Homo sapiens: one gene and its partners. The protein of the gene in region 1 interacts with the protein of each later gene in a biochemical or structural test. Each region holds a gene or a part of one and is shown on either strand. Other genes may lie near its edges. The genes, in order: APOBEC1, DND1 and A1CF.

What was found.
Region 2: the proteins of APOBEC1 (region 1) and DND1 form a complex in vitro, tested with the Homo sapiens proteins (one study listed by BioGRID).
Region 3: the proteins of APOBEC1 (region 1) and A1CF form a complex in vitro, tested with the Homo sapiens proteins (one study listed by BioGRID).

The regions. Positions count from the first base shown.
Region 1 is NC_000012.12:7,662,813-7,670,389, forward strand, and holds the start of APOBEC1 (C->U-editing enzyme APOBEC-1), read right to left. Parts: upstream 3,097-7,577; 5' UTR 3,061-3,096; coding exon 3,045-3,060; intron 1-3,044. UniProt on the Homo sapiens protein: Cytidine deaminase catalyzing the cytidine to uridine postranscriptional editing of a variety of mRNAs. Form complexes with cofactors that confer differential editing activity and selectivity.
Region 2 is NC_000005.10:140,670,541-140,677,492, reverse strand, and holds DND1 (dead end protein homolog 1), read left to right. Parts: upstream 1-3,916; 5' UTR 3,917-3,950; coding exon 3,951-3,974; intron 3,975-4,104; coding exon 4,105-4,222; intron 4,223-4,586; coding exon 4,587-5,048; intron 5,049-5,147; exon of another isoform or gene 5,148-5,742; coding exon 5,743-6,200; 3' UTR 6,201-6,699; downstream 6,700-6,952. Other genes in the region: HARS1 (histidine--tRNA ligase, cytoplasmic), read left to right, coding at 73-166, 377-504, 597-839, 2,360-2,476, 2,668-2,814, 3,165-3,236.
Region 3 is NC_000010.11:50,882,581-50,890,283, forward strand, and holds the start of A1CF (APOBEC1 complementation factor), read right to left. Parts: upstream 3,048-7,703; 5' UTR 3,001-3,047; intron 1-3,000. UniProt on the Homo sapiens protein: Essential component of the apolipoprotein B mRNA editing enzyme complex which is responsible for the postranscriptional editing of a CAA codon for Gln to a UAA codon for stop in APOB mRNA.

The DNA of each region.
Region 1 (7,577 bases):
TTGTTCAAGGAAGAGCAAGCAAGTCAGCTTGGCTGGGTCGGAGTGATCAAGACCTGCAATGGAGGGAGATGAGCAATGGAGGGGGTAAGCCACAGGGCCTTACCAGCTCTGGATAGTATGCTAAGTGTAAGAAGCCATTAGAGAGTATGGGGATGATTCAAGGGAGAGTACTGAATTTTAGAGACCTGCGCCTCTCAGGACTCAGAGGCTTGGGGATGTTCCTGGCAATAAAATGGGCGCTGACAAGGCCTGAACCTCTAAGGGTGATTTGGGGAGATGCAGGCAAGAAATTCATCCCACGCTCCTGGCCAAACCTTAACTCGCAGGTGCTATTTTTGAACAGAGAAGAGTCACAGGCTCTGGAAGACACTTCCTTTAAAACAGAGCATGCTTTACCCTAGGCTGTGTGTGTACCTGTTTGTGTGTGTTACTTTTTATGCATTTGCACTGGATGGTAGAGGAGTTGTAGAAAGGACTTGGGCATGGCATGGTTTTTTTGCAGAGAGTGGTTCTAGCTGGGGAGAAGAACTAAAATGAGAAATTAGCCAGATATCTAGGAAATAGGACGAAGTCAGGAAACACTATTCCAAGTGTGACCTGAAGAACAAATCTCTTACTTTTAAAGGAGGAATGGGGGATTTGAGCATTGGGAGGAAGGAGGAAGGGGGTGGCTGGCACGTTGGAATGAGCTCTTCTCAGATCTTAGTGCAAATTGGGGCCCTTGAACCAGTAATCTACTCCGAGGGAGCCTTACATAAACAGAGGCCACATCATAGGAAAAAGGCATTTGATGATGGGAAGACACTTTCTCTGAAAGAGCTGAAGCAGCAGTGAGAAGTTCAGAAAGGGACGGTGAGACATATGCTGTGTCTACACTGATCAATATTATTCCTGGGATGCAAAGACAAGGATACCAGCCACATGACTGGGGACAGTTTGAGGTATAGAACACACCACCTTCATAAGAAAAGTCCAGGGAAGGTATTAGCTACTACAATCAAATAATGTGTTTGGTCTTTCCCCCAGTATGCCACTTAAAAAAGAATTTTTTTTTTTTTCCCGAGATGGAGTTTTGCTCTTGTTGCCCAGGCTGGAGTGCAATGGCGCGATCTCGGCTCACTGCAACCTCCGCCTCCCTGGTTCAAGTGATTCTCCTGCCTTGGCCTCCCAAGTAGCGGGATTACAGGCATGTGCTACCGTGCCCAGCTAATTTTGTATTTTTAATAGAGACGTTGTTTCTCCATGTTGGTCAGGCTGGTCTCAAACTCCCTACCTCAGGTGATCCGCCTGCCTTGACCTCCCAAAGTGCTGGGATTACAGGTGTGAGCCATCACACCTGACCTTAAAAAAGAATTCTAACAGATGAAGAACATAAAGGAGAAAATAAATTGTTACTTCAACTCCAAACTGATATCTATATTACCTTCTGCCCCATCACACTCACACTATTGCAATAGTCTTCTAACTGGTCTCCTTGCTTCCAGTCCAAAACCCATCACATGTCAAGTAAATGTGTCTAAAGCACTATTTTAGTCATATCTCTGTGCTATTCATAAATTCTCCAAAGATATTCCCTCTACCATAAAGAAAAACTTTCATTCCTTGAGCCTGGCATTCGAAGTCCTCTATAGTATAATAACACTTCAAATTTGCTTTCTGGTCTTACTGCAAATTGTTTACATAAATTTTTTGTAGCCTAACCAGTTTATTCATTATATTCCAGACACAAGTCTCTATAAAAGCTTTTAAATTCTGTTCATCAATAGGATTCAATCAACCTGGAATCTCCTCTTCTTTGTCGATCCAAAGTCTGCCCTTCTGGCCTGGCATGGTGGCTTACACCTGTAATCCCAGTACTTTGGGAGGCCGAGGCTAGTGGATCACTTGAGCCCAGGAGTTCAAGACCAGCCTGAGCAATAAAGCAAGACCTCATCTCTACAAAAAAATTAGCAGGGCTGGTGGCCCATGCCTGTTGTCCCAGCTACCCAGGAAGGTGAGGCGGGAGGATCTCTTGAGCCCAGGAGGTCAAGACAGCAGTGAGCAGTGATCACACCACTGTACTCCAGCCTAGGCAACAGGGCGAGTCTTAAAAAAAAAAAAAAAAAAATTTGGTTAGGCATGGTGGCTCATGCCTGTATTCCTAGTACTTTGAGAGACCAAGGGTGGAGAATTGCTTGAGCCCAGGAGTTCCAGACCAGCCTGGGCGAAGTAGTGAACCCACCCGCTAGTCTCTAAAAACAAAATAAGATAAAAATTTTTTTAGGTCTACACTTCTCTTAGAATCCAGCTCAAATCCTAGCTCAGCTGAAATTACTTCCTTCAGCCTGAAGTGTTCTTCCTCTCCCATGCATTTTTCTAACACTGACTGTGCACAAATTTATCAATTAGTTATAGTCAATTCATTTGTCAATTAGCACATTGTTCTCATGCTATCACGTCTGTTGTTACCTTAAACTGTTATTTAAACAGTTGTACTTTTACTTAACTTTTTTTTTATTTTTGTGAGACAGAGTCTTGCTCTGTTGCCCAGGCTGGAGTGCAGTGGCGTGATCTCAGGTCACTGCAACCTCCGCCTCCTGTGTTCAAGTGATCCTCCTGCCTCAGCCTCCCGAGTAGCTGGGACTACAGGCATGCGCCACCATGCCTGGCTAATTTTTGTATTTTTAGTACAGATAGGGTTTCACCATGTTGGCCAGGCTGGTCTCAAACCCTGGGCCTCAAGTGATCCACCCTCCTTGGACTCCCAAAGTGCTGGGATTACAGGTGTGAGCCACAGCGCCTGGCTACTTAATTTTTTATCATGGTGAAACAAACACTGATTTGGTTAAAGTCACTTGGAGATGTAAATATTTACTAATAATAAACCATCTTATTTAAGACTAATATATTAATCAATAATAGGGAAGTTTGAAAACACCCACAGATGCAAGAATCAGCAGGACACACACACACACACACACACACACACACACACACACACACACACACACACACCATTCTTGCATTGTTCAAGAATACTTGCCAAGCCCCCGGATCCATTTTACCTTTCTCAGAAGTCATGGTGCTCTGTCTCTGGACTTCCTCCTCTGGAGTCATAAGTTGTGCTGATTGTTCCTGGACTTTGTTGCTTCAGGTGTGCCCACTGCCACCTGCTTGGGCAGAGGATGACTCATTCCCGCATCTCAGGCAGTTATGGGAATCTGAGCTGTCTGTACAAACAGGGGGCCGACTGAGAGGGACATTATCGTGGGGATTTGCATCTTTAGTGATGAGAAAGCCTATGATGCAAATGACATGAATTTTGTAGGGTGGATCACTGGGTACCAAATTCCAAAGTTCTTCAATGACATCTGAATTTGGTAAACTTTCTCTTTCTTTAAATAAAGATTAAGGCAAGGTGGATCCATCATTCTTTTTTGTTTTGTTTTGTTTTATTTATTTATTTTTCATTATCTCCTACTCTGCATCAAGGATGCATCATTCTTTTTTTTTTTCTTTGAGACGGAGTTTTGCTCTTGTCGCCCAGGCTGGAGTGCAATGGCACAATCTTGGCTCACTGCAACCTCTGCCTCCCAGGTTCAAGCGATTCCCCTGCCTCAGCCTCCCGAGTAGCTGGGATTACAGGCGCCCAACACCACGCCCGGCTAATTTTTTGTATTTTTAGTAGAGACGGGGTTTCACCATGTTGGTCAGGCTGTTTTTGAACTCTTGACCTCAGGTGATCCACCCGCCTCGTCCTCCCAAAGTGCTGGGATTACAGGCATGAGCCACCGTGCCTAGCCTAGGATGCATCATTCTTTAATGGAGAGATGAGAGGAAAAATAAAGTTAAGAGAGACTTAATCTGTAACTATAGCTTGAAAATTTTTATGTTATCTGGTGAGCACACTGTGGCCTTGGCTTTCAGCTGTTATTCACCTATTTCCAACTTCCTCTCATTTTGCTCTCTGTCCTACATCCGTGTTGGAGAGGGGAGGGGAGCTATTAGATACAAAATGAGAAGGACCTTGGCCTCTGAGTCAGCTAATTTGTGTACAGGTCTTTGGTGCTCTCTTCATCCTTGAATCTAAGATTAAGTGTGTGGCCAAGTCCACTTCTGCCCTTTTTTTTTTTTTTTGAGACAGAGTTTCGCTCTTGTCACCCAGGCTGAAGTGCAATGGCGCGATCTCGGCTCACTGCAACCTCTGCCTCCCAGGTTCAAGTGATTCTCCTGCCTCAGCCTCCCAAGTAGCAGGGATTACAGGCACCCACCACCACACCAGGCTAATTTTTATATTTTTAGTAGAGACAGGGTTTCTCCATGTTGGCCAGGCTGGTCTCAAACTCCTGACCTCAGGTGATCCACCCGCCTCAGCTTCCCAAAATGCTAGGATTACAGGCGTGAGCCACCTCTCCCAGCCACTTCTGCTTTTTTATCCCCCTTGAAAAAGTAAATGCCATACTTCCCTATGCCATTGCTCTCTGTTGCCTGAACCCTGGGTCAAGTTCAAGCCAAAAATTCCTCTGAGTCTCAGCACTTACTCCTAGAATTGAGGTCACTTTTTCAAGGCCTAAGTCTCCCTCTAGTGTCTCAAATCTAGAACTCCTGAACTTTGAATCTCAAGGCCCCATGAACCTGAAACCCGAATCCTACATACAAGACTTTACTTAGTTATGAAAGTCAACCTGGAGCCTCCATGAGATAAAGCAGGTGTTTCGACAGGGGCAGACCAGTGTTTTGAAGAAGGGGCAGAAATCCCACATCATCAATAAAGGCCCTTCAGAGACCAAGTTTTTCTAAGTTAGGTAAGAGTAGAATCATTGTAGAATAAAAGTAGGTTAGGCCAGGCGCAGTGGCTCGCGCCTGTAATCCCAGCACTATGAGAGGCAGAGATGGGAGGATCACCTGAGGTCAGGAGTTCAAGACCACCCTGGCCAACATGGCAAAACCCAGTCTCCTAAAAATATAAAAGTCAGCTGGGTGTGGTGGCAGGTGACTGTAATCCCAGCTTCTCGGAAGGCTGAGGCATGAGAATTGCTCGAACCCAGGAGGGAAGTTTGCAGTTAGCCGAGATCTCACCATTGCACTGCAGCCTGGGCAACAGAGTGAGACTACGTCTAAAAAAAAAAAGAAAAAAAAAAAAAGGTAAGATAATAGCCATCAACGATATCCATGTCCTGATCCCTGGAATCTGTTAAACATATGAACTTAAGTGCCAAAAGGGTCTTTGTCGTTAATTAAAAATCTTGAGATGAGAAGACAATCCTGGATTATGCAGGTGGGCACAGTCTAATCACAGGGTCCTTATAAGAGGGAGGTAGAAGAGTCAGAGTCAGGATGCGAAATGGAGATATGAGGATGAGAGCAGAATTCTGCTTGCTGGCTCAAAGGGAGCCACGATTCAAGGAATGAGGAAAGCCTGTAGAAGCTGGAAAAGGCAAGGAATGGATTCTCCCCCAGAGCCTCCAGAAGAAATGCTACCCTGATGACACCTTGATGTCAGCTTAGTGAGACCTGTTTTGTACTTCAGACCTCCAGAACTATAAAACAATGTGTGTCGTTTTATACCATTAAGTCTGTGGCAATTTCATGAAGCGGCAATAGGAAACTGATATGGTAGGACATGCTCCCAGGAAGTAAACATGCAGCAGCCAAGAGGGTGCAAAACTTGGGTTTGTTTTCTACTAGAATGCCTATTGAGCGCTTCGTCCATGTTCTGTTTTGTTTAAGAAAACTTGGAACTATGACATATGACAGACTATCATGTGGTTAATTATTTGTAAGTGAGGTCAAAGATAATCAAGGATGAAATGTAGCTATTCAGTTTAAGTCTGTCCTGCACCTGAAAATTTATGAATTTTGAAAAATGTATACATACACTTATGTAACTACTCCAGTCAAGATATTTAAAATTCCCATCACCCCAAAAGTTCTTTTGTTTTTTTGTTTTTTTTTAAGACAGGGTCTTCCTCTATCGCCCAGGCTGGAGTGCAGTGGCTTGACCTTGGCTCACTGTAGCCTCAGCCCCCCGGGTTCAAGCCATTCTCATGTCTCAGCCTTGCAAGAAGTAGCTGGGATTACAGAGATGCACTACCATGCCCAGCTAATTTTTGTACTTTTAGTAGAGATGAGGTTTCACCGTGTTGGCCAGGCTGGTCTCGAACTCCTGACCTCAAGTGATCCACCCACCTTGGCCTCCCAAAGTGCTGGGATTACAGGTGTGAGCCACCATGCCTGGCCAGCACCCCCCAATTCTGTGTGTTAGCAGCTATCCTCCTACTCCTAGTCCCAGGCAAATACTGCTCTTTCTGTCTCTATAGTTTAGTTTTGACTATTATAGAACTTCATACAAATGGAATCATGCATTGTGCACACTTTTGTGTGTTCTTTTGCTCAGCTTTTCCTTTTTTTTTTTTTGAGACAGGGTCTCACTATACAACTTTTTGTATTTTTAGTAGAGACGGGGTTTCACCATGTTGGCCAGGCTGTTCTTCAGCTTTTCTGTAAAATCGGTCTACATGATTAGGTGTATTGGTGGTTAATTTTCATTGCTGAATAGTATTCCATTGCATAGGTATGCTACGATTTGTATATTCTTCTGTCGATGTGATGTACTTTGGGTTATTTCCAATTTTAGGCTTTCATGAATAAAGCTGCTGTGAACATTTGTATACAATTCTTTGTGTAAACATGTCTCTTTTTCTTCCTCTTGGGTAAATACCCAAGAGTGAAATTGCTGGATCAAATAGGTAAATGCACATTTAACTCTTTTTTAAAAAATTGATTTTATTTTTTATAGGGACAGGGTCTCACTATATTGCCCAAGTTGGTCTTGAACTCCTGGGTTTGAGAAATCCTCCTGCCTTGGCCTCCCCAAAGTTCTGGGATTACAGGTGTGAGCCACTACACCCAGCTACATTTAACTGAAGAAAATGCCAAATTGTTGTTACCAGTTTACATTTTCATCAGGTGTATAAGAGAGCCCCAATTGTTATACAACCTCATCAGTACTTAGTAATGTCAGCCCTGTTAGTTACAATCATACTTGTGAGTGTGTGGTAGTATCTCATTGTGATTTTAATTTGCATTAAAATTAAATGCAATGAACATCTTTTCATGTACTTATTAGTTATTTATATATCTTTTTTCTGAAACTTGTTCAAATTTTTTGTCTTCCCTCCCTACCTCGCCCACCTCCCACCCACCCTGGAGACAAAATTTTGCTCTTGTTGCCCAGGTTGGAGTACAATGGCCCCATCTTGGCTCACTGCAACCTCCTCCTCCCGGGTTCAGGTGATTCTCTTGTCACAGTCTCCCGAGTAGCTGGGATTACAGGCGTGTGCCACCATGCCTGGCTGATTTTTGCATTTTTAGTAGAGATGGGGTTTCATCATGTTGGTCAGGCTGGTCTCAAACTCCTGACCTCAGGTGATCCACCTGCCCCAGCCTCCCAAAGTGCTGGGATTACCAGGTGTGAGCCACCACACCTGGCCTTGTCCATTTTTTAATTGGGTTCTTTGTCTCATTACTGAGTTGTAAGAGTTTTTTACGTATTGTGGATACAAGCTTTGTCATATCTGTATACAAATGCTCCTCAG
Region 2 (6,952 bases), on another chromosome or scaffold:
CGAGGACAGTACACACTTGCTCTGTGGTGCGGAAGCTGCCCAGGGGTCCCTGACTGGTGTCTGTCTGCCTAGGTGTCCTGGGAAGAGGTGAAGAATGAGATGGTGGGAGAGAAGGGCCTTGCACCTGAGGTGGCTGACCGCATTGGGGACTATGTCCAGCAACATGGTGAGGAACAGAACCAAGCCTCCCCAGCAGCCGTCCCACTGCCCTCAGTCCTAAAGTTGAAACTGTTCTGTGTTATGTATGTAGGGGAGTGAGTGTGTCTATGCATATGTACACACACATGCATGGGCGACTAGAGTCCAGGCAAGAAGGTCAACCCTCCTTACCTTTTTTGTTTCCTTGTCAGCCTCACTCACAAGTCTGTCTCCCCAGGTGGGGTATCCCTGGTGGAACAGCTGCTCCAGGATCCTAAACTATCCCAAAACAAGCAGGCCTTGGAGGGCCTGGGAGACCTGAAGTTGCTCTTTGAGTACCTGACCCTATTTGGCATTGATGACAAAGTGAGTCAAGTTGGGGACGGGATCCCTTCTGAGCTCTGGGGCTTCAGGTCCCTGATCTTAATCTGGCACTGACCATTTTCTTATCTCCACAGATCTCCTTTGACCTGAGCCTTGCTCGAGGGCTGGATTACTACACTGGGGTGATCTATGAGGCAGTGCTGCTACAGACCCCAGCCCAGGCAGGGGAAGAGCCCCTGGGTGTGGGCAGTGTGGCTGCTGGAGGACGCTATGATGGGCTAGTGGGCATGTTCGACCCCAAAGGGCGCAAGGTGCCATGTGTGGGGCTCAGCATTGGGGTGGAGCGGATTTTCTCCATCGTGGAACAGAGACTAGAGGTAGGTCCTAGGAGGTAGGTAGAAGATAGTCTGAGCAGGTGGTGGCACCTAAGCTATCTGATCTCCAAGGGAGCAAGTGGTGCTGCTTTGGGCAGGGAGCATCTCACAGAAATGGAGAAAAGATTATTGCTCTTTTTCACAGATTTCTACCCCATTATATGTAAGTTTTATGGATCTTTAATCCATAATCTTTCTGCACTCAATCCTCTGCTCTGGGTCTCTACTTCCTTCAGGGCTGTCACAAACCTGGGCTGGTGTATCCAAGACTTAGATCTTCCTCATGATACGGAATACTTAACATTTTACTGCCTTGTGCCAGGCACTGTGCTTGGTGCTTTTCATGCATTATCAAAATATAATTGTTACTACAGCCCTGTGAGAGTAGCTAATTTTATTAATTGCATTTTCCAGATGAGAACACTGAAGCATTATAGATCAAATAATTTGCTTAAGGCCATGAAACTTGTAAGTGGTAGGGTCAGAATTTGAATCCAGGCAGTCTGACTCCAAAGTCTTGCCACTAACCACACTGCAATACTGTCTCTAAATGGGAAGCATGTGTCTGAGGCCCTGGGATCCCTCAGATGGCTACCGTGACTCTCTAGCACCTAGAGTAACACCAAGGAAGCCTCTTGTAGCCTCAAGCCCTCCTTTGTTGCTGCTGGTCTTAAGTGGCTGGTTGCATTTCATCTTCTGGGAAATGCTCTGGCAACCTCCCCACAGTCCTATGCCTTTTCTCTAGGGTGGAAACCACCCATTTCCCAGTTGAGATCATTTTTCCAGTAGGCATCTTACATTCTAAGAACTATGAAAATAGTTTTCCTGAAAAAGACAAGGGAAGCAGCAGCAGCATTCTCCTTTCCCCACACCCATATACACGCCTGTGCCCTGTAACTGAAGTGTGAGAGGCACAGTGTCATAAATGGGTAGATAGTAAGTGGGGACTAAAACTGTCAAGGGTGATCTAATTGGGGTGGGCTCATAGTAGTACTTCTGTGTGAATGCTTTGGTGGACCCTTAAGGTACTACATGGACCAGCCTGGGCAACATGATGAGACCCTGTCTCTACAGATTAAAAAAAAAAATTTTTTTTTTTTTTTAAATTAGCTGAGTATGGTGGTGTGTGCCTGTAGTCAGGAGGCTGAGGTGGGAGGATCACTTGAGCTTGGGAGGTCGAAGCTGCAGTGATCACACCACGGCACTTCAGCCTGGATGACAGAGACCCTGTCTCAAAAAAAAAAAAAAGGTACTACATGGAGATAAGCTTGAAGTTACTGTAAAAAAGCTACCTTTACTCTTGCCCTAAGTTATTTATTCTGATACGTCCTATGTACAAGTCAGTCAGTTCAGTCCTCATATCTACTAAAAGCTACCTTTATGCCCAAGGTGCTAGATGAGAAGACAGGGCCCCTGCCCTGGTAGAGCTGAGTTGGGCCTGGTCTCAAAATCCCGACTAGAGCCTGCTTTGTTTGCTCCTTGAAGGTGTTAGCCCAGCTCTCTTTTATCTGCCCCTTCCCCAGGCTTTGGAGGAGAAGATACGGACCACGGAGACACAGGTGCTTGTGGCATCTGCACAGAAGAAGCTGCTAGAGGAAAGACTAAAGCTTGTCTCAGAACTGTGGGATGCTGGGATCAAGGTATGGGAGGCAAGCCCCAGGGTGGCAGCAAACTTAGGTGTGCTGGACACAAACTGAATAAAAGCTCACCCATAATGGATCCTGCCATTACTTCTCAAAAGTAGAGCTAAGAACAGGGTGCCAGCTTGGACACCCTCTGTCCCTGAGGACAGCAGAAGCCAGCCTTCATCTTCTGCTCTTGTCCCCTGCAGGCTGAGCTGCTGTACAAGAAGAACCCAAAGCTACTGAACCAGTTACAGTACTGTGAGGAGGCAGGCATCCCACTGGTGGCTATCATCGGCGAGCAGGAACTCAAGGATGGGGTCATCAAGCTCCGTTCAGTGACGAGCAGGGAAGAGGTGAGGGAGGTGGGCAGGAAGGCTAAGGGACAGAGAATGTATGCCATTTTGGCAGGCCCATGCCCATTCAAGACCTGAGAAAAAGCCTGGCATTGATATTAGTACAACTCATAAAAGCCTTGAGGGCTTAACCTGTTACTGTGGTCTTAGTAGGGTGAGATCTCCATCCCTGCATATACCTTATGGTTTGTTGGCTCCCCCAAGAGGCACACTCTAGCCTGAGGTGTTTAATTAGGTTCCTGCTCCCAGCTGAGACAAGCCTGATGCCTAGAGGGCTAGAGGAAACTAGGCACTCGGGGAGCAGTGGAATGGAAGATGCTTATACCACCTTCTTCTCCCATCCTGGCCAGGTGGATGTCCGAAGAGAAGACCTTGTGGAGGAAATCAAAAGGAGAACAGGCCAGCCCCTCTGCATCTGCTGAACTGAACAAACTATCAGAGGAAAGGAAGTGGGACTGGCACTATTTGAGGTTAAGACAAACTGCATATGTACTTCAATTGCTTTGCACTTTTCCGTTTCAGCGGAAGACCTGAAGAGTGGTCAGAACAGAGCCTTTGATTTTTATTATGGTTATTTTATTGATTATTACTGGCAAAAACGGCCAGGTACAACACCTTTTTCATACAAGGCCCAGGAGGCTTAGTCCAGTCTGTGCTCCTGGGCTACAAGGACCCAGCCTGAGATGGTCCCATCTGCAGGGCCCCGCACCAGTTGGAGCAGATGCCTCCCCACCACCAATTGCCAAAGGTCCAATAAAATGCCTCAACCACGGAGTCTGCGTGTGTCAGTGATGCCTAGCCCCGCCTTCCCCAGCAGACCAATGTAGGGATGGAAAAGGGAGAAAAACAGTAAACTTGTGACCCTGAGGTTCTTGTCTCCAGCGTCCACCCTGCGGCTTGGGAGCTCCTCCTCGGGAGGCAGCCCCCGTACATACGCACCCGCGACTTTGCAGCTTTCACCTGAAGGTCTGAGCGAAGCCCGGGCGGCGCACGTGCAGTGGATACCTCCACCCCCCTGGGAGGCGGGGTCGCGCTCAGAGCCAATGAGAGCTTGCGGGGTGGAGGGGTAGGGAAGCTTCCAGAGGCCGGTGGGGAGGAAGTTATAAAGAGGGTACGAGGGGGCCAGCTGGAGAGCCATGCAGTCCAAGCGGGATTGTGAGGTAAGCGGCTGGCGACTTGGGGGCCGGCGAGCCCCGCCGGAGCGGGGGTCGGCTTTAGGGACCCCAGTACCACAGGAGAGGTGGGGGCGCGCTTGGCGATCCGCCATTCCAACCTTCCTTTCCCTCTCAGCTGTGGTGTGAGAGGGTGAATCCAGAGAACAAGGCGGCGCTGGAGGCGTGGGTCAGGGAGACAGGCATCCGCCTGGTGCAGGTGAACGGGCAGAGGAAGTATGGCGGGCCACCCCCAGGTACGGTAGTCCCAGCCCCTCCGCCTGTCCGGCTACACCAGCCCCCTTTGGGGGAGGGGCTGCTCCGAGCCTTCACTGTCAGAAACTGCGAACTACCCGGATTTATACCCCCCAGCAAAGGAGGAACTGTGGCTCCACGTCCACCCGCCCCGTCGAGGGAGGGGGCCAATCTCAAGGTGTACCTACTCTGTGCCAGCCCCCTTGTTAGCGCAGTCACCTAATTATGCCAACCACCCAGGGTACGGGTGTAAACCCATTTCACAGACCTTTGTTCACATCGCCTCCCACCCCCGCGCGCTGGGTCCGTGGGCTCAGAATTCGAAAGCGTCGCCTGACGGTGGCCTTGCATACCCTCTTCCCACAGGCTGGGTGGGCAGCCCGCCGCCAGCTGGGTCAGAGGTGTTCATCGGGCGGCTGCCTCAGGACGTGTACGAGCACCAGCTTATCCCGCTGTTCCAGCGCGTGGGCCGCCTCTACGAGTTCCGCCTGATGATGACCTTCAGCGGCCTGAACCGCGGCTTCGCCTATGCCCGCTACAGCTCGAGGCGCGGCGCGCAGGCCGCCATCGCCACGCTGCACAACCATCCGCTGCGGCCGTCCTGCCCGCTGCTCGTGTGCCGCAGCACCGAGAAGTGTGAGCTGAGCGTTGACGGCCTGCCGCCGAATCTGACCCGCAGCGCGCTGCTGCTCGCGCTGCAGCCGCTGGGTCCCGGCTTGCAGGAGGCGCGGCTGCTGCCCAGCCCCGGACCGGCGCCCGGGCAGATCGCTCTGCTCAAATTCAGCTCGCACCGGGCCGCTGCCATGGCCAAAAAGGCCCTGGTGGAAGGTAGGCTGGGGCGGGGGTGCTGGTTGGGGCCAAACGCGTTCTGCCCGGCACTTTATACTGAGCATAGCTGTTAAAGTTACAAGATCTTAGAGTCAAACATGCCAGAATTTGCAACCTTTTACTATTTGATCTCAGATTTTTAAAACTTCCAATGGTGCTACCACCACCGCTTACCTAAATTTGTGACACTTCCCGAGCATTACCTCCTGACTTAATTCTCAACCTTCCCCCACCCCCACACCGCAAAATAGGCACAGGACCCTCAAGCTATGAGGAAACTGTTAGAGAAATTGATTTGCTCAAGGGAATCCAACTGAGCTTTTTACTACTATAGAATCTGTTTCCTCAGACTGTTATGAGAATTAAGTAACATAATGGGTGTACGGTACTTAGCACACTGACTGACTTACAGCAAGTTTTCCCAGTAAAGATTAGCCATTATGATGGTTATGAGGCAGACAAAGCCTGCAATTAACCAGTACTTCTCCAAGGAAACTTGTAAGGTAGCAGTGTGTTATACTCCCTTTGCAAATAATGGAGGCTGAAGGCTTCATTGTCTTTTCTTACCCATGGTCACACTACCAGGAAATGGGAAGGCTACAAATAACAGGACTGTGTAGCTCCAAAGGGCTCACCACCTGGAGGCTTGGGCCCAGGGTTTAGACCTGCCCTTGTCTTTGCATTTTTCCTACAGGGCAGTCACACCTCTGTGGAGAGCAGGTGGCTGTGGAGTGGCTCAAGCCAGACCTGAAGCAGCGACTTCGCCAGCAGCTTGTGGGTCCCTTCTTGCGGTCCCCACAGCCAGAGGGCAGCCAGTTGGCTTTGGCAAGGGACAAGTTAGGGTTCCAAGGGGCTCGGGCTACCCTGCAGTTGCTGTGCCAACGAATGAAGCTGGGCAGCCCTGTGTTCCTCACCAAGTGTTTGGGCATAGGACCTGCTGGCTGGCACCGCTTCTGGTACCAGGTGGTGATTCCTGGGCATCCGGTGCCCTTCAGCGGCCTCATCTGGGTTGTGCTGACCCTAGATGGCCGGGATGGGCATGAGGTGGCCAAGGATGCTGTGTCTGTACGGCTGCTGCAGGCACTCAGTGAGTCTGGGGCCAACCTCCTGTGGTCTGCTGGGGCTGAGGCAGGTACCATGGTTAAACAGTGACTCCATTCTTTCTCCACAGGCACCCTGAATGGGCATGCAGAGCCTGTGTCAGGCCCCATCCCAGCAGGCCTGGGTGGCCACTTTCTGACCCCCAAAGGTGGGGAGGGGCATGGGCCCAGGCCCATCAGCCTCCCTGCTGGGACAGGGACCTATGGCACCTGGGGGCAGCTTAGGTTTGGGTTAAGTTGTGGTGAGGGGCCTTGCCCTCCCGCTCCCAGCCCAGGGTCCAACCTGACCCAGTGATCTTCCATGGCCGTTCCTTGTCCCACCCCCACCCGATCATACCTTCCCCCCTCTGCCACAGCTTAGCATGAATCTTCTTTATTGTCCTGATTTGTCCTCTTTGTTGGTTTTTATTTGTGGGGAAGGGCAGCTGAGCCAAAGGGGTCAGAAATTCTGCCCTTTGCCTCCACCACATGGCATTCTGGTTTTGGTTTCTGTATAGTTTTGGGTCTTTCTATGCTGGTTGTATTTATATTAAACCCCTGGTTAGTATATACTTGTGTCTGTGCTGTCTTGCCCTAGCTTAGAGTTTGTTTACACTGGTAGAGTGAATAGCTGCTACGGGGCAAGTACTTCCTCACATCAGTGCTTTGAGTGCATCTTCTTGTGTTGCACTGTAGGGTATTATAAATTCATATCCAGGCCGGGTGTGTTGGCTTTTGCCTGTAATCCCAGCACTTTGGGAGGCTGAGGCGGGTGGATCACCTGAGGTCAGGAGTTCGAGACCAGCCTGGCCAGCATGGAGAAAC
Region 3 (7,703 bases), on another chromosome or scaffold:
AGCAGATGGGATACAGATTTCTAATACAGAATGTCACCGCAAGAGTGCTGCTCCTTTTCCAGATGCTTTTCCTGGGGGCAGTTGGATTGTGAGAGCTGCACTTTGCAGGAGCCTGGTTACTGTTTCTGTGAATAAGATAAAATGGTGTTTATCCTCTGTCGATCAATACTGTCTTGTTTGAACTTATTGAGTCATTTTAGAGACACATAAGGTAATGAAAACCATTGTGCAATAGTACCCACAGTACTACTCAGCTTTCTAAGGGATGACAATTTTTAAAAGACAGTTACTGAAACAGATTTTTAACATCAACTGCCTCCATGATGAAATGAGCATGCACTGTGTCAGGGTGTCCCATGGGTTTGGGTGAAAAGGTGTTGGGGTTTTATAACTAAGAGTTTTCTTCAGCAATAATCTCTAAAATAAAAATATACTCTGTGTGTGTGCTTTAATACTAAAAAAATTTACAGACTGTCTTTCTCTGAATAAATGGAATAGTGCTACTATTTGTGATTAATCAAAATTTTTTATGTACAGTTTGTGATTTCAACTTTATTAGTATTGTTTTGAAAAACAAGGCCTAATAGGTATACTTGGGCAATTTTAGAAAATTTTTCTGGAGGTTGTTACAAATAGGAAAATGAAAAGGGAAGTGGGGTTTTTGCTGAATTCTTAAGTACCGGGGACCACATTTCTCTCCTTTGCTTTATCATCTAATTTAAACTTCACAAAATACTATGGGTCAGATCTTACCCCCATTTCACATTTGAGGAATCTGAGATTCAGTGGAGTCAAACAATATGCCCAAGGTCACAAACCTAGGGAGTTTTACAATAGGCGTTTCCACTTAGCTGTGTCGAGGCACAAAGCCTAGTGTTCTTTCCGTAATTAATTTTAAAAGTTTCTCAGATAGGCATAGTCCTATTTGGTGGAAGACTAGACTCTAAAGTCCTTTAGATTTTTCAACTGTGATTATTTCAATGGATTCTGATTGTTCTGAATGCTGGACATGGGCTATAAAAGCGATTTGGTCTTTCTTGTTCTGTATTCTGAGAAATGCCAATTTTGAGAGATATTGATAGATGTTCCTGAAAGAAGATGTTCTGTTGTAAATTAAGCCCAGGAAACAAAACGTTGCCTACTCTCTTAGATAGTTGTGATAAATGACAATATTTGCATGTGTCATGAGTCCCCAGTGCTCGAGCGTATGATATAATGGTTACGTGCTTGGGCTCTGGATCAGACTACCAGACAAAGGAGCCTGGCTCTGCCACTTGCTAACTGAGTAGCTGAGCCTGTTAGGTAATTTGTCTGTGCCTCCATTTTCCCATTTATAAACTGTTATAATAGTATCACACCATAGAGTTGTTCCAAGAATAACATGAGATAATGCATGGAGAGAACTTAGAAGTAGACCCGATAATATAGTGCTTCACAGATGCTTGTTATCATTATTACTCAAAACACTCATGTGGTAACAAAACCTGCTATAACTTTTCTAACACTGTTTCCTCAACTTACTTGACAATGGAGTTGCTTTTCTTTTGAGCCACATTTATTAACATCCACTGAATATAGTGTAGGAAATGTTGATATTTGAAATGACATAAAACCACCTTGGCATTAGTGCAGTAGAAAATAAGAACAAAGTATTTATAGTGTTTTAATATCCATTATGTCATTTTATAATGTTTGCCCACAACAATATTTCTTTTCCTTGCCAGCTGTCTTCTTTTTTCCCTTGAAATCGATAAATAGTAAAATAGAACAGTAAAATGTTAAGAGTTGTCTGAAATGGGCAGAGTCAATGTTATTCCAGAAAGTATGAACCTTATAAGTCATTTGTCTCTTTCTCTGTATTTAGCAGGGCAAAACCTTACTGCTTTGACAAATAAGTGATATCACTGTCATTTCCAGACCTGTGCTCCCATTGCATGCTCCATAGCACACGTTATAAAGAAAATTTCAGAGCAGACCAACACATTTTTTGATGCTCCTAAACTATAACTAGAGCTGAATTTGCCAAAATACGATCTATAAAACACTAATCCTGCACAATGTGCAAATAATGCTGTGTTCTTCATCTTCTTGGAGATATACAATACATATCTGAAAAGTCCTATAGTAAATAAAATTGTTTAGTTTGGAATCCTTTCTTCTTGGAATTTACATAGGTAATCATGACAAAAAGTCAGAGAGTTTAGGGGGTTTCTGGTAAAAATGGGATATTTTTGGTAAATGTCCAGATTGATTTCTTTCTTTAGCTAAAATACCATTATAATGTTTTTGGAGTACACAAAAAAAATATGTGAAAATATATCCACCTCAGCACAGTTGCCCAAATTGTGGAAACAATATAATAATTAGCCATTCCAAGGTTCAGATTTAACACACTGAAAACCAGTCATTTTCCATAATATTTTTTTGGTCAGAATCAAAAGTGAATAGTTTAAACATTCCTTTGGTTAGCAAGATAATGGCAGGCGGAATCGCAAGAGTTGTACCAAGACTTTCTTTTTTATGGTGGTAGTAGCTCTGGAGATAATTGAATATATGAAGTCTAAAGTATGATAGGAATTATGACCCACACACAGAACTCAAAATCTGCTGGTGATGTTAATACTATTTCTTTTGTTAATTATATTTTTGTTTCTCAGGGTCCTAGGATTGGGACAGGCACTCAACCACAACTCTCCCTGCTGTCTGGTTAGAGCTAAATAAACTTCTCACAACATTGGCTCCACTCTTGAACCCTCCGTGGTAAGTCTACAGAAATTTATTAAATCCTGGCAGCTATCTCATTTAGAGATTATATAATAATTCCAATATATTCTTTTGTTTTCTGGTTGTTTCATTAGTCTAAAAACAAGCTAGATAATTCTTTGAATTAGGCTCGATAACAGAAGAGGGTAAAAGCTGTTTTCACTGCATTCCCACTGATACCACAATACACAGTTTCACAGAGTTGAAATAGAAAAAAGCAAAACACATGGATCATACCTGAGTAATTTCAGAGATCCCCACCCGGAAAAGGTTTCCTTGATTATGGCGAATTCAACGTGTCACTCGGGTTATGCTCTAATCGTCATATCAAACTCCAAAGGTTCAGTGGCTTTAGGTTTGGTTTACAATTCCTGGGAGTTAAACTTTAACTCACCCTGTCTCTTGCATCCATGCAGCCCTTTGACCAGATAATTGGGTCACTACAGCCCAGATATAATCTACTAAAACTATCTTTGTTATTTGTTTATAAAATTAAAATAAATGTTGTAAAAATGTTGGGGTAAATATTATTTTGAAGATATTTTATTGGCTTATACGATATATTTAAAAAGTAAAAACTCACTGCAATTGGATACCTAAGCTTTCCTTTATGTTACTTCCTTTGTTTTTTACTATGTCAAAGTGATATTATAGCTAAGGTAATTTAGGAGAATATTTCTTTGTTTTACACTTTTTATATCACTATATTACATGGAGTAAAGTGTGGAGTTTTAGGTCAAGTACGTAGATAAATGCTGGCTTACAAACAGAAAATACACAAAGCATTTATATAACAAAGTAGATAGATTTAGGCCAGATCAGGTTGGGGAAAGCATACTTCTTTGTATACAAGCTGCTCATTTAGATTTTAAGAGGAGGCCACTGTGTGAGAAGCACAATAATCAGCTACATACTGGGGTTATATGATAGCTGATGCTATTGTTCATTGCCTGAAATCTCAGTGGTAACTGAGTTTCTTGAAAAATAGAGAAATGGTGCTTTCAGAAATACAAACATTATACTCTGAGTTCTCTGGTAAGAGCTGTAGTCTACAGAAGAAATCCCTAAGGGTAATAAAGCCCACATTTAAAAAAGGAAGAAGAACCAAAACCTTCCTAATTTTGAGTAAATTTTGGTTTAAGAGCTTGGAAACCACACATTCCAAAACTAGAATTAGAGGATACCCCTACTTGCCTTTAGTTCTAGTAAAAGGAGTCTAATTTTCTAGGAACCAACTATTAAGAGAGCATTTTTGTCTATAGAAAAGCACAAAACAAGCAATCCTTCTATAATATAGACGCAAAGGAAGATCCATCAATTAAGCACATCTATGAATATGTAAGAGAAGAGATAAAAGATACTGTTGGAATGCTAGTTCTGCTTACAGTTTTTAGTTCTCAAACATGGAATTATTTCAGTTCTCAAACATGAAATGATTTACCATTTTCCCATAGCAATGGATGATAGAGTTTAACAAAAACACCCCAGGAACAATTGTTTTACCCCAGAATTGCTCCCCTGATGTTAGACCTAGAGAAAGCATTTATGCCCCACCCAGCTAGATAGCTGAATGAGGGACACATCCCTCTACTTCCTTCTTGGGAAGGGATTCCCTCACAAAGTAGCCCTGATGGTTTCCTAGTGAAAGCTCAGTCTGGGGTTGCATGGTTCCCAATTGAGTGGGGAATTCTTTGAGTTTGCCCAGTCCAATAAAGAACTGTTGATGTTGTAAGATGGACAGTTTTGAGAGGGTTTCTTTTATTGTTTTTTGTGATAGGGGCTTAGATGGTGATAAGTGGAGATGAAGAAAGGAAAGCTAGGATTTTTAGGCATCTGATGGAAACACCAAAACACAACAGGTAAAAGGAACGATATTAACTAGAGTCTCAGTCCATTCAGGTTACTATAATAAAATACCATACAAGGCTGGGTGTGGTGGCTCATGCCTGTAATCCCAGCACTTTGGGAGGCTGAGGCAGGTGGATCACAAGGTAAGGAGATTGAGACCATCCTGTCCAACATGGCGAAACCCCATCCCTACTAAAATACAAAAAAATTAGCTGGGCATGGTGGTGCACACCTGTGGTCTCAGCTACTTGGGAGGCGGAGGCAGGGGAATCACTTGAACCCGGGAGGTGGAGTTCGCAGTGAGCCAAGATCATGCCACTGCACTCCAGCCTGGGCAACAGAGTGAGACTTCATCTAAAAACAAAACAAAAGAAAACAAAAAGAAAACCATACAGTGGGTAGCTTCAACAACAAACACTTGTTTCTCATCGTTCTGGAGGCTGGAAATCCAAAATCAGGGTGCCAGCAGGACCCTCTTTTTGGTTATGTCCTTACATGGCCTTCCTTGGTGCATGCATGCAGAAAGAGAGATCTCATGTCTTCTCCTTTTTAAAAATAAGGGCACCTATTTTTAAAATGAGGGACCTAGGTCCTGAGGGTCATGAGGGACCTAGCCTCATGACCTACTCTAACCATAATTACTTCCAAAAGGACCTATTTCCAAATACCATCACATTGGGGGTTAGGGTTTCAACATATTAATTTTAGGAGAAACACAAACATTCAGTCTATTGTAACCAGTTATTAAAAACATGTCAGTTGCTTATTTGATGGATCCTGGCATTCAACAGGGCAGGACTACAATCGCATTAACCCAAAATCTGATGATTTCCGTAGGACAATTCATATATTACTCCTAACAGCCAGTGGTAGTAATGAATTTGGTAGTAATGAATTATTAGGTTATTGCTTTCTATTTTTATTGCTTTTGTTTTTTAAACCATTTTGTTACAAGGATAGGAATACACTGATCAGGAATAAAAATAAAAACAATGGATCAGCCTTTCTTTTTCTGAGGGGTACTTAGAGAGAAAGTCTCTGGCCCTGGGACAGAGAAACCAATCCATCAGAATGAGATCAAATTTATGACCTTGATCTCATCAGTCTAATCAAGAGAGCTAACTGTACCCAGGATGGCAAGATTTGCCTTTACTTTGTAAAAATAAACCAGTTTAGATAGTGGCTGGTAAATGTGAATTTTCTATTACTTTATTCTACAAACAATTACTGAGAAACTTCTCTCTGCTAAGTGTTGCATTAGAAAGGTGATTACTTAAAATGAGATTTGAGTCTATTAGTAGGCTATAAAATCAATAAAGTGGGTTGTATCTAACATATTAAAATAGAACAGAAAATATCAAGTGAATTGCATCTAGAAAGGGTAATACTGGCCAGGCGCGGTGGCTCATGCCTGTAATCCCAGCACTTTGGGAGGCCGAGGCAGGCGGATCACCAGGTCAGGAGATCAAGACCATCCTGGCTAACACGGTGAAACCTTGTCTCTACTAAAAATACAAAAAATTAGCTGGGCGTGGTGGTGGGTGCCTGTAATCCCAGCTACTCGGGAGGCTGAGGCAGGAGAATGGCGCGAACCTGGGAGGCGGAGCTTGCAGTGAGCAGAGATCGGGCCACTGCACTCCAACCTGGGTGACAGAGCGAGACACTGTCTCAAAAAAAATACAAACAAAAAAACCAAAAAACAAAAAAGAAAGGGGTAATACTATTTATGAAACTTTTTTTCTAATTATGTATCTATCTGTGTGTATTGGTTATGAAGTAAACTTTATTTTTTATTGTGGATCACAATTTTAAGCGTTTGGAAAATACTGTGCTAGTCTTAAGGGATTCAGTGGTTAACAGACCAGATGGAAGGTACACACATTAAGCATATACCCCAATGATTAACTAATTATAGTTGTAATAAGTGTTATGAAGGAGAAGTACAGAATGCTAAACAGAACATAAAACATAGGGACCTAACCTTGTGTAGGGCTGGGTGGGTTGGGAGGTACTTGAGGAAAGCCTTCCAGAACACAAGACATTTAAGCTGAGACCTGAAGGATGTGTGGATGGGAGGTGGGCATTCTAGTGAGTGGAAATAGCTCATAGGGATGCCCTGAGTTCGCATGAGTTAGGCACATTCAAAAAACTGGTAGAAGGTCGGTTGTGAAGGGCAAGAGGGAAAATGATGGGGAAATTGACTGGAGTAGGTAGCCAAGTCAGACGATTCATAAAGGGCCATCACTAGATTCCCAGCATTATCCAGGGCCAATGGGAAGGAAGTCACGGAAGCATCTGAAGAAGGGGAGCCACTTGGACTATTTGTGTAGATTCTGGGTGTAGAGTGGAGAATAAATTGCCATGGGATAACACTGCCTGCTTCTCTCCTTTTTTTTTTTTTTTTTTTGTTGTCTTAGAATAATTTTACTCTTGTACATATTCAAGTAAGTTGGTGATTTGAACTTGAAGGAGGCAAAGCATCTAAAAGAGACCAGTAAGAGGGGAGGTGGCAGGTGATGGTAGTTAAGATTAGGGTGGTGGCTCTGGGAAAAGAGAAAAGTAGACAAGGTCCATGAAATGTGTAGGAGGTAAATCATCAAGAGGATATGGGAACTGAGCAGGGCATGACATCTAAAGGACAAGTCTCAAATTACTGAATGCAGCCATTGGCTGGATGGTGATACTATTTGCTGAAATGAGAATGCTCAAAAAAGAAGAGACTTACAAAAATAGGCTATACCAGGTCCATAGTAAGTACTCATTCGGTGGTTGCAATGATCAATCATTCATACATGAAATATTTGGCTTATGGATTTTAACGAATCTTGCTTTCACTATCAGAGTACATTTAGGTAAAAATCATTAATTTTTGCTGGTGAAGGCAAAACGTAAAGCTTAAAAAAAAAACAAAATATAACTAAAAGTCAAAGATTACCAAGAATAAGAAGCTTCCTTCCCTGCCACCATCCTCCCTGCCCTGGCTCAATAAAAATATCTCTTGCAGGTGGATCATGAGGTCAGGAGTTCGAGACCAGCCTGGCCAAGATAGCAAAACCCTGTCTCTACTAAAAATACAAAAATTAACCAGGCAT